Linked DNA regions of Homo sapiens: regions 2 and 3 are each linked to region 1. Evidence: fine-mapped expression QTL. A gene starts in region 1. Each other region holds a variant in brackets. All regions are shown on one strand. Distances are between the middles of the regions.

Region 1 (4,243 bases):
TTGTTGGGTAATCAGAGTTAATTCCACTAACCAACATATTCAAAGTGAAGGACATAGCAGTAAAATTCCTTAAATACCTGTTTGTTTGTTTTATTTTAAGTTGTCACAAGCTTTCACCTACTGCTAAGAAATAAACTTAAGGCATTTATTGCAACTGACTAATGAATGTATGTTAGTGGCTTAAAGAGGAGCCCCAGAAAAATTAGTTGAGAATTCACAGTTGGAGAACCAAATCCTTAACATACATCTGGGAATAGAGTACAAAAATAAACTTACTTATCAATTGCTTTGAACAGACCACTCTAAACCAGTTCCAACACTGACCAAAAGGACTGGTTACCTTCTATCTTTTGAGGGATCTATGGCAAAGCTACGCATGTGCAGAACTGCAAAATCAGTCTGCATACATGCCATTTCCTGACACGGCCCGAGAACCCATACTCCAATGGTCTCACACCAGGTAAACAAGTTTGCCATATCCAGCAGGTGAACTCTGAGCGAGTTAGCAGACCTTACAATTTTCTGTTTTTTTTGTTTGTTTTAAGTCAGCCTTAGTTTTCTTTTTACTGTTTAGAGATGGGGGTCTCTGTTACCCAGGCTGGATGGTATGCAGTATCGTGATATAGCTCACCGCAGCCTCAACTTCCTTGAGCTTAAGCGATCCTCCCACCTTACCCTTCCAAGTAGGTAGGGTTACAGGTGTGTGCCACCACACTCGGCTAATTTTTTTTTTTTCTTATGGAGACGAGGGTCTTACTATCTTGCCCAAGCTGGTGTGAAACTCCTGGGCTCAAGCTATCCTCCCACCTCAGCCTCCCAAAGTGTTCGGATTACAGGCATGAGCCACCGCGCCCGGTCTCACTCTAAACAGTTTTTTTAATCTTGACAAGTTTTAAACTGGACCTCCACATTTAGGGACTTCAAATATTTCCCTCTCTGCCACAACATCCCCACTGTCGCTGAAAACACCTTCCTATTACTGCTAATGTGACTGAAATACAAAAGAGAGCAGAGATTAGTACAAACTTCGAAATAAAATGAAGAACACCGGGACTCTAGCCTCTGCCAACTCCTAACATCCTACCTGCTCAGTTTATTCCTTCTTTAAATATGAACAATTTCACCCTGGTAGACAAGTCAGTGACTGGCACAGTGAAAACAGAGGTAAAAACTTCACCTAGTACTTGGCACATGGTAAGCCCTCAATTAAAGGTAGCTATTATCAACATGGTCATAATATTGACAGACTTGATTACAGAAATAAAACCTTCCCTGTTAAAGGACAATCCTATAGTCCAACACACAACAATAGACATTATGTGTATTTGGCGCAAAATAGACGCCAGATATCCTAAGACCTTAGTTCATTTGTTTTGTTTTTAATTAGTTTTTTAAGTTTATTTAATTATATTACCTCCACCTACCTTTACAAGTAAGTAAACTCGGGGCACTCACTCAAGGTCTGGCAAACTGGGACCCAAAAAGACTGAATTCATAGTCTGCGCTCTTAACCCCACAATGAATAGCCACTGAAGGATGACTTCCTCTTCGACAGAGGAATGGATCTGGGACCAGGTTATTAAATAAGAGATCTGAGTTTGAAAGGTCCTTGGGCCCTCACCCACCCATCTAAACTTGAACACTATCCAATGTTAATTCAACATTAAAGGGTAGAACAACTTAGTGGTTTTAGGAGCGTGGACTGATGAGTCACACAAACCAAGTCTTAAGGCCTGCTGTGAGCCAAATACTAGCTGGGTGACCTTACCCTTTCTCATCATATGCAAAATGGCGATAAGAACAGCACCTGCTTAATCGAGCAGTTTTGAGTATTAATGTAAATGATCCACGTAAACCACGCAGCACAGCGCTCATTAATGTAACTGCAAATGAGAGCCATGGAAAAGGGCAGGTAGGAGCTATAAAAGAAAGTGGAGCCTGTCCCCGAGTAACCCAGCCGATGAGAGCAACGACTCTCCCCAGCAGCAGGGGCAGTCGCCCCCGCCCACTGCCGCAGGCCCGTCCTTACCGCTCTTGGGTTTAGACTCGCCGGCTGGCCCCGCCGAGGCGGAGCGGGGCGGCTGTTGCCCTTTGCTGCTGCCCGAAGAGGCGGAGGAGCTGTTGGAGCCGCTGTTCTTGTCCATGTCGGAGGCGGTGGCGGCGGCGTTGGGGGAGCTCAGCGGCATCAACGGGGGCCTCGGCGGCGACGGCAGTCGGAGCGGAGCGGGCGCGGCGGGGACCCAGGCTCATGGCGTTCAGGGCCGGCGGGGGTCGGCGGCGGCAGCGGTTCTCGGCCTTCATGGCGACATTTTTCCCTGTTTCCTTCCTTGGCTTCTCAAACTAGGAAGAGAAGCGGCGGACGGGGCTGTTAAGCCCGGCGGCAGCGGCGACCGAGGACGAGGAGGCCGGGGCTCGGGAGTCCGGGCCGGGCCTGGCGGGGCGGAGGCTGCGGGGGAAGGGGAGGCGAGGGAGGTTGCGCGAGCCCCGCCGGCCGGCCGGCCGGACACGCTCTCCCGCCGCGAGGCAGGGGAGAGGGCTGGCTGTCTCGGTGTCGGGGACTAGTGTCTCCGACACAGCAACGGATACTCGCCCCTGGGCCGAGGCCGACCTGCTCCGGGAATGGCGACGAGTCGCCAAACAGCATCTCAAAGAACCCGGATGGACTGTATATATAGTGGAGAGGGGGTGAGGTATTCTGGGAAATGTAGTTTTTGCCTACATCCGGGTCTCGTGGTTTGTTTTTTGGTTTTTGTTTGTTTGTTTGTTTTGGTTTTGTTTTTTTTATTTCCTCCCCCACCTCCGCCCCAACCCCACTGTGAGGGCATTCAAAATAATGGGACTTGCAGTTGCTCCAAGTCCAGGTTTTTCACTTAGTACACTAAAAATACAGTAACAATAATAATATACACTGATAATAATGTAGCCAAACATTGGAATACCTGTGGAACTCCTTTATAGACTCGTTTGATTTATGGTTCTTTTTTTTTTTTTTTGAGGCGGAGTCGCTCTGTCGCCCAGGCTAGAGTGCAGTGGCGCGATCTGGGCTGACTGCAAGCTCCGCCTCCCGGGTTCACGCCATTCTCCTGCCTCAGCCTCCCGAGTAGCTGGGACCACAGGCGCCCGCCACCACGCCCGGCTAATTTTCTGTATTTTTAGTAGAGACACGGTTTCACCGTGTTAGCCAGGATGGTCTTGATCTCCTGACCTCGTGATCTGCCCACCTCGGCCTCCCAAAGTGCTGGGATTACAGACGTGAGCCACCGCGCCCGGCCAATTTATGGTTCTTATTCTAGCGTTAATACCAATTGATTTATGGCCTTTAGTCTATCTCATATTAGGAATAATAATAATAACGTTAATAATGACAATACCTTACATTTAATATCACTTTACGGCACTTCTTCATACAGTACATCACTTTATTTCTTTAGCCTGGCGTGGCGGTGCGCACCTGTGGTCCCCATTACCCAGGAGACAGAGGCGGAAACAGGCCATAAGCAGTGTTTCATGCGTGTAATCCCAACACTTTGGGAGGCAGAGGTGGAAGGATCCTTGGAGGCCAGGAGTTCCAGACCAGCCTGGGGAATATAGCGAGACCCCTGTCTCTAAAGAATAAAAATATTTTTTAAAAAATTAGTTGGGCAGCCGGGCGTGGTGGCTCACACCTGTAATTCCAGCCCTTTGGGAGTCTGAGGAGGGGGCAGATCACTTGAGGCCAGGAGTTCAAGACCAGCCTGGCCAACATAGCAAAATCCCGACCCTATTAAAAATACAAAAATTAGCTGGGCTCTGAATAAAATAGTTTGAATAAAACTAACTTTAATTTAAAAGAGAGAAAGAAAAAAAAATTAGCCAAGCATAGTGGCTGTGGCTGCACACCTGTAGTTCTAGCTACTCAGGAAACTGAGGTGGGAGGATCACCTGAGCCCAGCAGTTGGAGGTTGCAGTGAGATACGATCGTGCCAGTGCACTCCAGTATGAGTGACAGAGAGGGAGACCCTGTCTAAACTTTTTTTTAAAAAGTAGAAACAGAGAACAAAAAGCAGATTAGTCATTTCAAAATTACTTTTCTTGTAAAGGTTTAAGCAGAATGGACTTCCTTATGTGGGGTAAAACTGACCAGTTTGGGGATTTGATGATTTCTCAGAAGGTCAGATAAACAATTTCGTTTAGGCGTGGTTGGGTAGAAATTCACCTTGAGTAACTCTGTTTTGGTTTGGTCTACTGTGCTGAAGCTCAGTGC
Region 2 (4,243 bases), 130 kb before region 1:
TTCACCATGTTGCCCAGGCTGGTCTCGAACTCCTGACCTCAAGTGATCCTCCTGCCTCAGCCTCCCAAAATACTAGGATTACAGGCATGTGCCACTGTACCTGGCCTCATACAGAATAGTTTCACTGCCCTAAAAATCTTCTCTTCTCTGCCTATTCATCCCTCCCTCCCCCCAACCCCTTGCACCCACTGATCTTTTTACTGTCTCCATAGTTTTGCCTTTTCCAGAATGTCATATAGATGAAATCATAGGGTATGCAGTGTTTTCAGATTGGCTTTTCACTTAGTAATATGCATGTGTGTCCCCTCTTCACCATGTCTTTTCATGACTAGATAGCTCATCTCTCTCTCTCTCTTTTTTTTTTTTCTTTTTGAGACAGAGTCTTGCTCTGTTGCCCAGGCTGGAGTGCAGCAGTACCATCTCAGCTCACTACAACCTCCGCCTCCCGGGTTCAAGCGATTCTGTGTCTCAGCCTCCCAAGTGCTGGGATTACAGGTGTGCGCCACCACACCCAGCTAATTTTTTTTGTATTTTTAATAGAGACAGGGTTTCACCATGTTGATCAGGCTGGTCTCAAACTCCTGACATCAAGTGATCTGCCCACCTCGGCCTACCATAGTGCTGGGATTACAGGCATGAGCCACAGCGCCTGGCCTAGCTCATCTCTTTTTAGCACTGAGCAATATCCCATTGTCTGGATGTGCCCCCGTTTATTTATCCATCACTTACTGAAAGGACACCTTGGTTGTTTCCAAGTTTGGACAATTATGAATAAAGCTGCTATAAGCATCTATGTACAGATTTGTGTGGACATAGGTTTTCAACTCATTTGGGTAAATACCTGCCCTTCCCTCTCACCTGGTGGCTCTTCCCATTTTGGGGGGCTCTAATTATTTATAACCTCCTCCAGGAAGTCTTCCCTAATCCCTCCCTGCAACTTGGCACAGGCGCCCCCTCTATAGCAGCCCCCTGTGCTTCCCCCAGCACACATGGATTATGCTATTGTTTTCTCTGGTTTTCTTGCTGGTTTTGAGCTCTTCGAGGCAGAGACCAGATCTTAGCACACAGCAGATGTACAATGCATCCTCGTAGGATGAATGGGGGATGCCAGGCTTTCAAGAGCAAGGCTGTCATCTGTGGTGGGCGCTACCTGGATACAGGGAGACCTGAGATTTCCAGATCTGGTGATAACAAAGCCTTCTCTCCAACTATCCACGCTCCCTGGCCTTGAAGGCCAACTGCTCCTGAGAGAAAACCTCCCAGCCTTTGTGTTCTGGACACTCACGGTCTCTGGCACATGCTTATCTTGTCTTTCTGCTCAGAATGCAAGTTCCTGGTGTGCAGAGTCAACATTTTACCCTTTCCCTGTATCCCGTAGTGCCTCACATGGCGTCATGCACAAGACTGCATTCTGCTGTGATTTCAGGCCTGGGGCTGTGCCCCAGCTCTGCCTCTTAGTAGGCAGGCAATCTTGAGCTAGTTATATTACTTCTCTGAGCCTCAGTTTCCTCATCTGTAACATGAGGTTATAATAATGCAATCCATAGAGTCATTCTGAGAATTAAATGTAAGAATATGTGTAAAGCTACTTAGTACAATGACTGCACATAAGTGTACAGTAAATTATAACTATTATGATTACTATTGATTCTTTAAAAAGAAAGTCTTTGAGGCTGGGCGCGGTGGCTCACGACTGTAATCCCAGCACTTTGGGAGGCTAAGGCGGGTGGATCACTTGAGGCCAGGAGTTCGAGACCAGCCTGGCCAACATGGTGAAACCCTGTCTCTACTAAAAATACAAAAAATTAGCCAGGCATGGTGGTGCACCCCTATAGTCCCAGCTACTCGGGAGGCTGAGCCACAAGAATCACTTGAACCCGGGAGGCGGAGGTTGCAGTGAGCCGAGATTACGCCACTGCACTCCAGCCTGGGCGACAGAGCAAGACCCTGTCTTAAAATAAATAAATAAATAAATAAATAAATAACCTTTCACTGAGCACTAGCTGTGTTATGCAAGAAATGCAGTGATTAAGAAAATAGGGTTCTTCTTTCAAAGTTCAGAGTCAACTGGGAAGACAACTCTAACCAGCAGTTAGGGGACAGTGTGAAGAACAGGTGAGCCTGACGTGCTGTGAAAACCCAGAAAAGAGGAAGTTCAGTTTGAGGAACCAGGGAAGGGTGCTAGAAGAAGGAGTCCCACTGTCGAGTCATGAAGAATGTCCCTTGGGCTAACAGAACTTAGCCCAAGT[A/G]AAAAACAGGATAGGCCAGATGCAGTGGCTCACACCTATAATCCCAGCACTTTGGGAGGCCAAGGCGGGTGGATCACCTGAGTTCAGGAGTTCCAGACCAGCCTGGCCAACATAGTGAAACCCCATCTCTACTGAAAATACAAAAACTAGCTGGACGTGGTGGTAGGCGCCTGTAATCCCAGCTATTCGGGAGGCTGAGGCAGGAGAATCGCTTGAATCCAGGAGGCAGAGGTTGCAGTGAGCTGAGATCGTGCCATTGCACTCCAGCCTGGAGTACAAGAGCGAGACTTTGTCTCAAAAAAAAAAAAAAAAAGAACAGGATAAAAGCCCTCCTGGTGGCCAGGCACAGTGGCTCACGCCTGTAATCCCAGCACTTTGGGAGGCCGAGGCGGGTGGATCACTTGAGGTCAGGAGTTCAAGACTAGCCTGGTCAACATGGTGAAACCCCGTCTCAACTGAAAATACAAAAATTAGCCGGGCATGGTGGTGGGCGCCTGTAATCCCAGCTACTTGGGAAGCTGAGGCAGGAGAATCACTTGAATCTGGGAGGCGCAGTTTGCAGTGAGCCAAGATCCTGCCACCACACTCCAGCCTGGGCAACAGAGTGAGACTCTGTCTCAAACAAACAAACAAACAAACAACAACAAAAAAGCCCTCCTGGCAAAAAGATCAGTGTATTCAAGAGGGACCCTAGCAGCTTCACTGATCACAAGTATTTTGGTGGAGTGTGAATGAAGGACTGTTGAGTTGTGGCTGGGGAGGTGAGCTGTGGTCAGATCTTAGGGAGCCTGAGTGTCCAGTTGAGGAATGTAATGTTCAGAAAACACCTACCGTGGATGGATGCATGCGTGGGTAGACAGATAAATGGATAGAGAAGGATGGGTGCAGATGGACACAGGGATGGGTGAATGGATGAGTAGATGGATATAGATGAGGAAATGACTGAACAGATAGATGGATAGATCAATGCAAGTATGGGTAGAAGTATATGCAGACGAAGAGACATGAATGTGTGAATGGAAGTATAGAAGTGTGAACACATAGAGAGATCTATATGAGTAGATGAATACATAGATAGATTCATGGGTGAATGTAGAGAAGAATGAATAGATGCACGAATGGACAGATAAATGCATGGATAAATTGCTATAGGAATGATTGCTTAGAGATGGAGGAATGGATAAATAGGCATCTGGACAGATAAGGAGATAAACAGATGAAAAATGGAGAGATAGATATGGAAAGATGGACAGATAGATGAATAGGTAGATGAATGGATGGACAGATGGATGGATAGGTGGATGGATGGATGGATGGATGGATAGATATGTAGACGAATGGATGGACGGATGGATGGATGGATAAATGGATGGATGGATGATGGACAGATAGATAGATAGGTAGATGAATGGATGAATGGATAAATGGACAGATGGATGGATAGGTAGAGGATGGATGGATGGATAGATGGGTAGATAAATGGATGGATGGATGGATGGTGGACAGATGGATAGATAGGTAGATGAATGGATGGATAAATGGACAGATGAATGGAAAGGTAGAGGATGGATAGATGGATGGACAGATGCATGAATAGATGCATGGGGAAGGGATGGGAGATGGATTAGACGGGGGCATGGACGGAGGGATAAGAGGATGAAAGGGCTGGGGGTTGGAAAATTAGGGCGGATTGATGGTTGCATGATGGATACACAATTGGAGGGCTCCATGGATGGCCACTGCTGGCTTGCTTCTCTCCCACTTTCAAGCCCCACCTACCTTCAAAGTCCACTCGTCCATCCCCATTGAGGTCCACATCTCGGATAATTTCCTCTATGTCTCGGTGTCCCACCTGATGACCCAGGAGCTTCCTCATAGCCTCTCGCAGCTCACTGGTGCTTATTTCCCCATCACCATTGGTGTCAAACTAGAGAAGGCAGGAAGGAAGGAGAGGTCGCCCCAGCATGGCGATTGGCAGCAGCAGATCCCAAAGT
Region 3 (4,243 bases), 33 kb before region 1:
GACAGACTCCATCCAAAACAAAACAAAACAAAAAGCAGCTTTCAGAAAAGACAGTATGTGAAAACACAATCTCGGTATCACAGATAGGCTGGGCACAGTGGCTCAGGCCTATAATCCCAGCACACTGGGAGGCCGAGGCAGGCGGATCACTTGAAGCCATGAGTTTGAGACCAACCTGGCCAACATGGCGAAACCCCATCTCTACTAAAAATACAAAAATTAGCAGGGTATGGTGGTGCTGCCTGTAATCCCAGCTACTCGGGAGGCTGAGGCACAAGAATTGCTTCAACCTGGGACGCAGAGGTTGCAGTGAGCCGAGATTGTGCCTTGTGCCACTGCACTCCAGTTTGGGCGACAGAGCGAGACCCTGTCTCAAAAAAAAAAAGATGCATATCACAAATAATGTATTTAATGATCTGCCACAGTCCTTCGTATGCTCCTTTTTCAGTTAAGCAGAAGAGCGTCACAGTAGTGCAGTCCTCAAGAACCAGGTTCTAATCCCAGTTCTTGCCACTAAGTACCTGCCTCAGCCACAGGTTCCTAATCTGCAAAATGATATGCATATGAACAAAATGGTCACCACAAGTTTTAAATATTCCAATGATGGACACTTTGTTAAGAATGCCCGACAGAGGCCAGGCACAGTGGCTCATGCCTGTAATCCCAGGACTTTGGGAGGCCAAGGCAGGTGGATTACCTGAGGTCAGCTGGCGGATCACCTGAGGTCAGGAGTTTGAGACTAGCCTGACCAACATGGAGAAACCCTGTCTCTACTAAAAATACAAAATTAGCCAGGCATGGTGGCATATGCCTGTAATCCAAACTACTTGGAGGCTGAGGCAGGAGAATCGCTTGAACCCAGGAGGCAGAGGTTGCAGTAAGCTGAGATTGCACTATTGCACTCCAGCCTGGGCAACAAGAGCGAAACTCCATCTAAAACAAAACAAAACAAAACAAGAATGCCTGAGAAATCAGACGTAAGCATCAAAAAGTATCTTTCTTGGCCAGGTACAGTGGCTCACACCTGGAATCCCAGCACTCTGGGAGGCTCAGGCAGGAGGATCACTTGAGCCCAGGAGTTCAAGACTGCAGTGAGCTAATGAATGCATCACAGCACTGAGCAAGACCCTATCTCTTAAAAACAAACAGGCTGGGCACAGTAGCTCCCACCTGCAATCCCAGCACTTTGGGAGGTTGAGGCAGACAGAACACTTGAGGCCAGGAGTTCGAGACCAGCCTGGCCAACATGGAGAGACCCTGTCTCTATTAAAAATACAAAAATTAGCCAGGCATGGTGACGCACACCTGTAATCCCAGCTACTCATGAGGCTGAGGCAGAAGAATCGCTTGAACCCGGGAGGCAGAGGTTGCAGTTAGCTGAGATTGCACCAGTGCACTCCAGCCTGGGTGACAGAGCTAGACTCCATCTCAAAAAAAAAAAAAAGAAATTAATAAACCATGTGCCAGGCAGATGAAGATCACAAAAGATAGTTCTCTGAAATTATAGTAACTCTTTAATAAATGTTTAATTTCATAACACTTTAAACATTCTTTATATATAAGACAAACTTTTTGAAGGCTAAAGGCCCATTTGAACATTTCAATCCAGTCTCATTCCTTAGAATGTAACACTACTACCAATTTGGAACACATCTGTCTCAGTATTTTTCTTTTTTTTTTTGAGAGGGTCTGGCTGTGTTGCCCAGGCTAGAGTGCAGTGGCCCAATCTGGGCTCACTGCAACCTTTGCCTCCTAGGCTCAAGCCATCTCCCCACCTCAGCCTCCCAAGTAGCTGGGACTACAGGTACACACTACCACACCTGGCTAAATTTCGTATTTTTTGTAGAGACAAAATTTGGTTGGTCTTGAACTCCTGAGCTCAAGGGAATCTGCCCACCTTGGCCTCCCAAAGTGCTGAGATTACAGGTGTGAGCCACCGTGCCTGGCCTTCAATTCTTTTCTATACATTTAATATTTTTTTATTTCCTCCCCTGCCTTCTAACAGAAGTTTTTCTATACATTTACATATATATATATACATACACACACACACACACACACACCCATAATGAAATGCTTTAGTTTTGTGGTGGTGGTGGTGTTTTTTTAAAACCCACGAACATTTATTCTTGTTCTACAAATTACTTTTATCTTCCCATTAGTACGTGAATAGAAGAATTACATTCCCTTCTTTAACAGGTGTGATTTTTTTTTTTTTTTTTTGAGACAAAGTCTCGCTCTGTCGCCCAGGCTGGAATGCAGTGACGCAACCTTGTCTCACTGAGACCTCCGCCTCCCAGGTTCAAGCAATTCTGTTGCCTCAGCCTCCCAAGTAGCTGGGACTACAGGCGCCTGCCACCATGCCCTGCTAATTTTTGTATTTTCAGTAGAGATAGGGTTTCACTGTGTTGGTCAGGCTGGTCTTGAATTCCTGACCTCGTGATCCACCCGCCTTGGCCTCCCAAAGTGCTGGGATTACAGGCATAAGCCACCACGCCCGGCCTTCTGGTGTGAAACATTTTACAGTATAAATACTATAATTTAGTCATTTTCTTATTGGTAGGCTTTCTAAACTGTTTTTTTTTTTT[G/TG]AGCTATTAAAACGATGCTACAATAAAGAGACATGTACAAAGATGTTTAGGCATACAGGGGAGTATCTCAAACAAAAACTAGAAACAAAAATAGGTGGGTCAAAGGGAAGACTCCATTTTCAACTATCCTGCCTAAAGAGCTCCTTGAGGTGCTTAGAAGCTGGCAGGGTAAAGCAGTCAGTATAGCAAGTGGGAAAGATGAATAAAAGAATTTGATGTACCTCAGGACTACCAAAGTAAGGTTATGCCCCTGAAGTCCACACCATGCTGAGTGGGCCGGGGTTGTAAACTCAGACACCAAAGCTTTGCATAAGGTCTAACTGATGGGTGAATTCATTAAATTTCACCTGTTTACCTGCATGGGAACCTGGACTTCTGCTGAGAGGAGAAATGGAGAGGGCCCCATGGCCCTCGGTGCTGGTGGGACCCAAAGCAGAATCAGAGGAGCAGGTATAAGAATTGAAGGCAGGAAACTGCTGTAGATTCTCGAGGGGAATGTGGACTTCTGGGTCTGCAAAGGAAAGATAACCCTTGTAAACCCATTTACAGAATTCAATTTTTTTTTTTTTTTTTTGAGATGGGGTCTCACTCTGTCACCCAGGCTGGAGTGTAGTGGTACGATCTCTGTTCACTGCATCCTCTGCCTCCCAGGCTCAAGCGATCCTCCCACCTCAGCCTCCCGAGTAGCCGGGACCACAGGCACGTGCCACCACACCTAGCTAATTTTTTGAATTTTTAAAGAGATGAGGTTTCACCATGTTGTCCAGCCTGGTCTTGAACTCCTGAGCTCAAGTGATCTGCCCACCTTGGCCTCCCAAAGTGTTGGGATTATAGACGTGAGCCACCACACCTGGCCTGAATTTTTCAAATAGTTTCCAACAGTTGAGGACATCACACATGCGTACCCCCAAAGGTCTAGAGGATGCAGACAAAAGCTAAAACCCAAATTTACAATAACTGTCCTTCTATAATGTCTTTAATATAGTTAACCTTGTTCTAACTATTCATAATTGAGGCTGGGTAACAAACATGCAGGTTAATTACATTGTTCTACTTGTCTTGATATTTCCATAATAAAAAGGTGAAAACAAAAAATCCTATTCCTGAAATATCAGTTTTCTCAAAGTTCAGGACATGTGCCAAACACCTACACGGTGTTGGGACCCCAAGTATACACTTGTCCCACTTGAGATATAAAATGTATGTTTCCATGCCATATGGAGTCAAAACACCGAAGTCCTTTTCTGGGCCAAGGACTCAGTTCCTTGTGTTCTAGTGGATAATGGGACCTCAGGTCACACTAATCCCCTGGATTCAATGAAACTTATTTTGGAGAACCAGATCAAAAGGCTGTGCTTACTGCTACGAAAGATCTCTTAAATCCAACTTCCTGCATTTCCTAGTCTATCAAAATTTCCATCTTATCAGACCCACCTGGCAGACTTGCTGTGTATAGCTGGTCCCTTTAATAAAGAGTCAGAGGTAAGGTCAGTGATCCAGAGAGCATGGGGAACGATGGCCCCCAGCATTCTTAGCGAAGCCCCAATTCCCATCTCTGGAACAGGTGTATATCACCCACTATTACCAAGGCTGAATTTCCTCTTAATCCTTACTATGTGCTAGGCACTTTGACCCATATTAACTCATTATATTTG

Direction of the effects. Alleles are on the strand shown, and positions count from the first base shown. SD is a standard deviation of normalised expression in the study named. Not every link is listed here.
For the expression in monocytes of the gene that starts at base 2,642 in region 1, G is the low allele of the variant in region 3 and TG is the other (small effect, 0.32 SD a copy in Fairfax 2014).

Evidence for each region. PIP is the estimated chance that this variant, and not a neighbour inherited with it, causes the effect. A credible set is the group of variants that fine-mapping cannot tell apart.
Region 2: its variant is the best candidate, but not a certain one, in a credible set for the expression of RNF10 in sigmoid colon (GTEx, PIP 0.63).
Region 3: its variant is the best candidate, but not a certain one, in a credible set for the expression of RNF10 in monocytes (Fairfax 2014, PIP 0.51).

Annotation. Positions count from the first base shown.
Region 1 is chr12:120,532,755-120,536,997 of GRCh38, reverse strand. RNF10 (ring finger protein 10) reads right to left here and starts at 2,642. Exons shown (of 17, transcript NM_014868.5): 1 at 2,030-2,642. The coding sequence starts at 2,186. It overlaps LOC128071547, which reads right to left and starts at 2,301. Exons shown (of 1, transcript NM_001414895.1): 1 at 2,041-2,301. The coding sequence starts at 2,301. The coding sequence ends at 2,041. RefSeq lists silencers at 2,423-2,492, 2,591-2,744.
Region 2 is chr12:120,661,004-120,665,246 of GRCh38, reverse strand. It overlaps CABP1 (calcium binding protein 1), which reads right to left. Exons shown (of 6, transcript NM_001033677.2): 5 at 4,029-4,176. Among named protein-coding and RNA genes, the nearest start is that of CABP1, 22 kb to the right of the region's middle. The variant A/G (reference allele first, on the strand shown) is at 2,250.
Region 3 is chr12:120,565,681-120,569,923 of GRCh38, reverse strand. It overlaps RNF10 (ring finger protein 10), which reads right to left. Exons shown (of 17, transcript NM_014868.5): 13 at 2,944-3,099. Among named protein-coding and RNA genes, the nearest start is that of POP5, 14 kb to the left of the region's middle. The variant G/TG (reference allele first, on the strand shown) is at 2,589.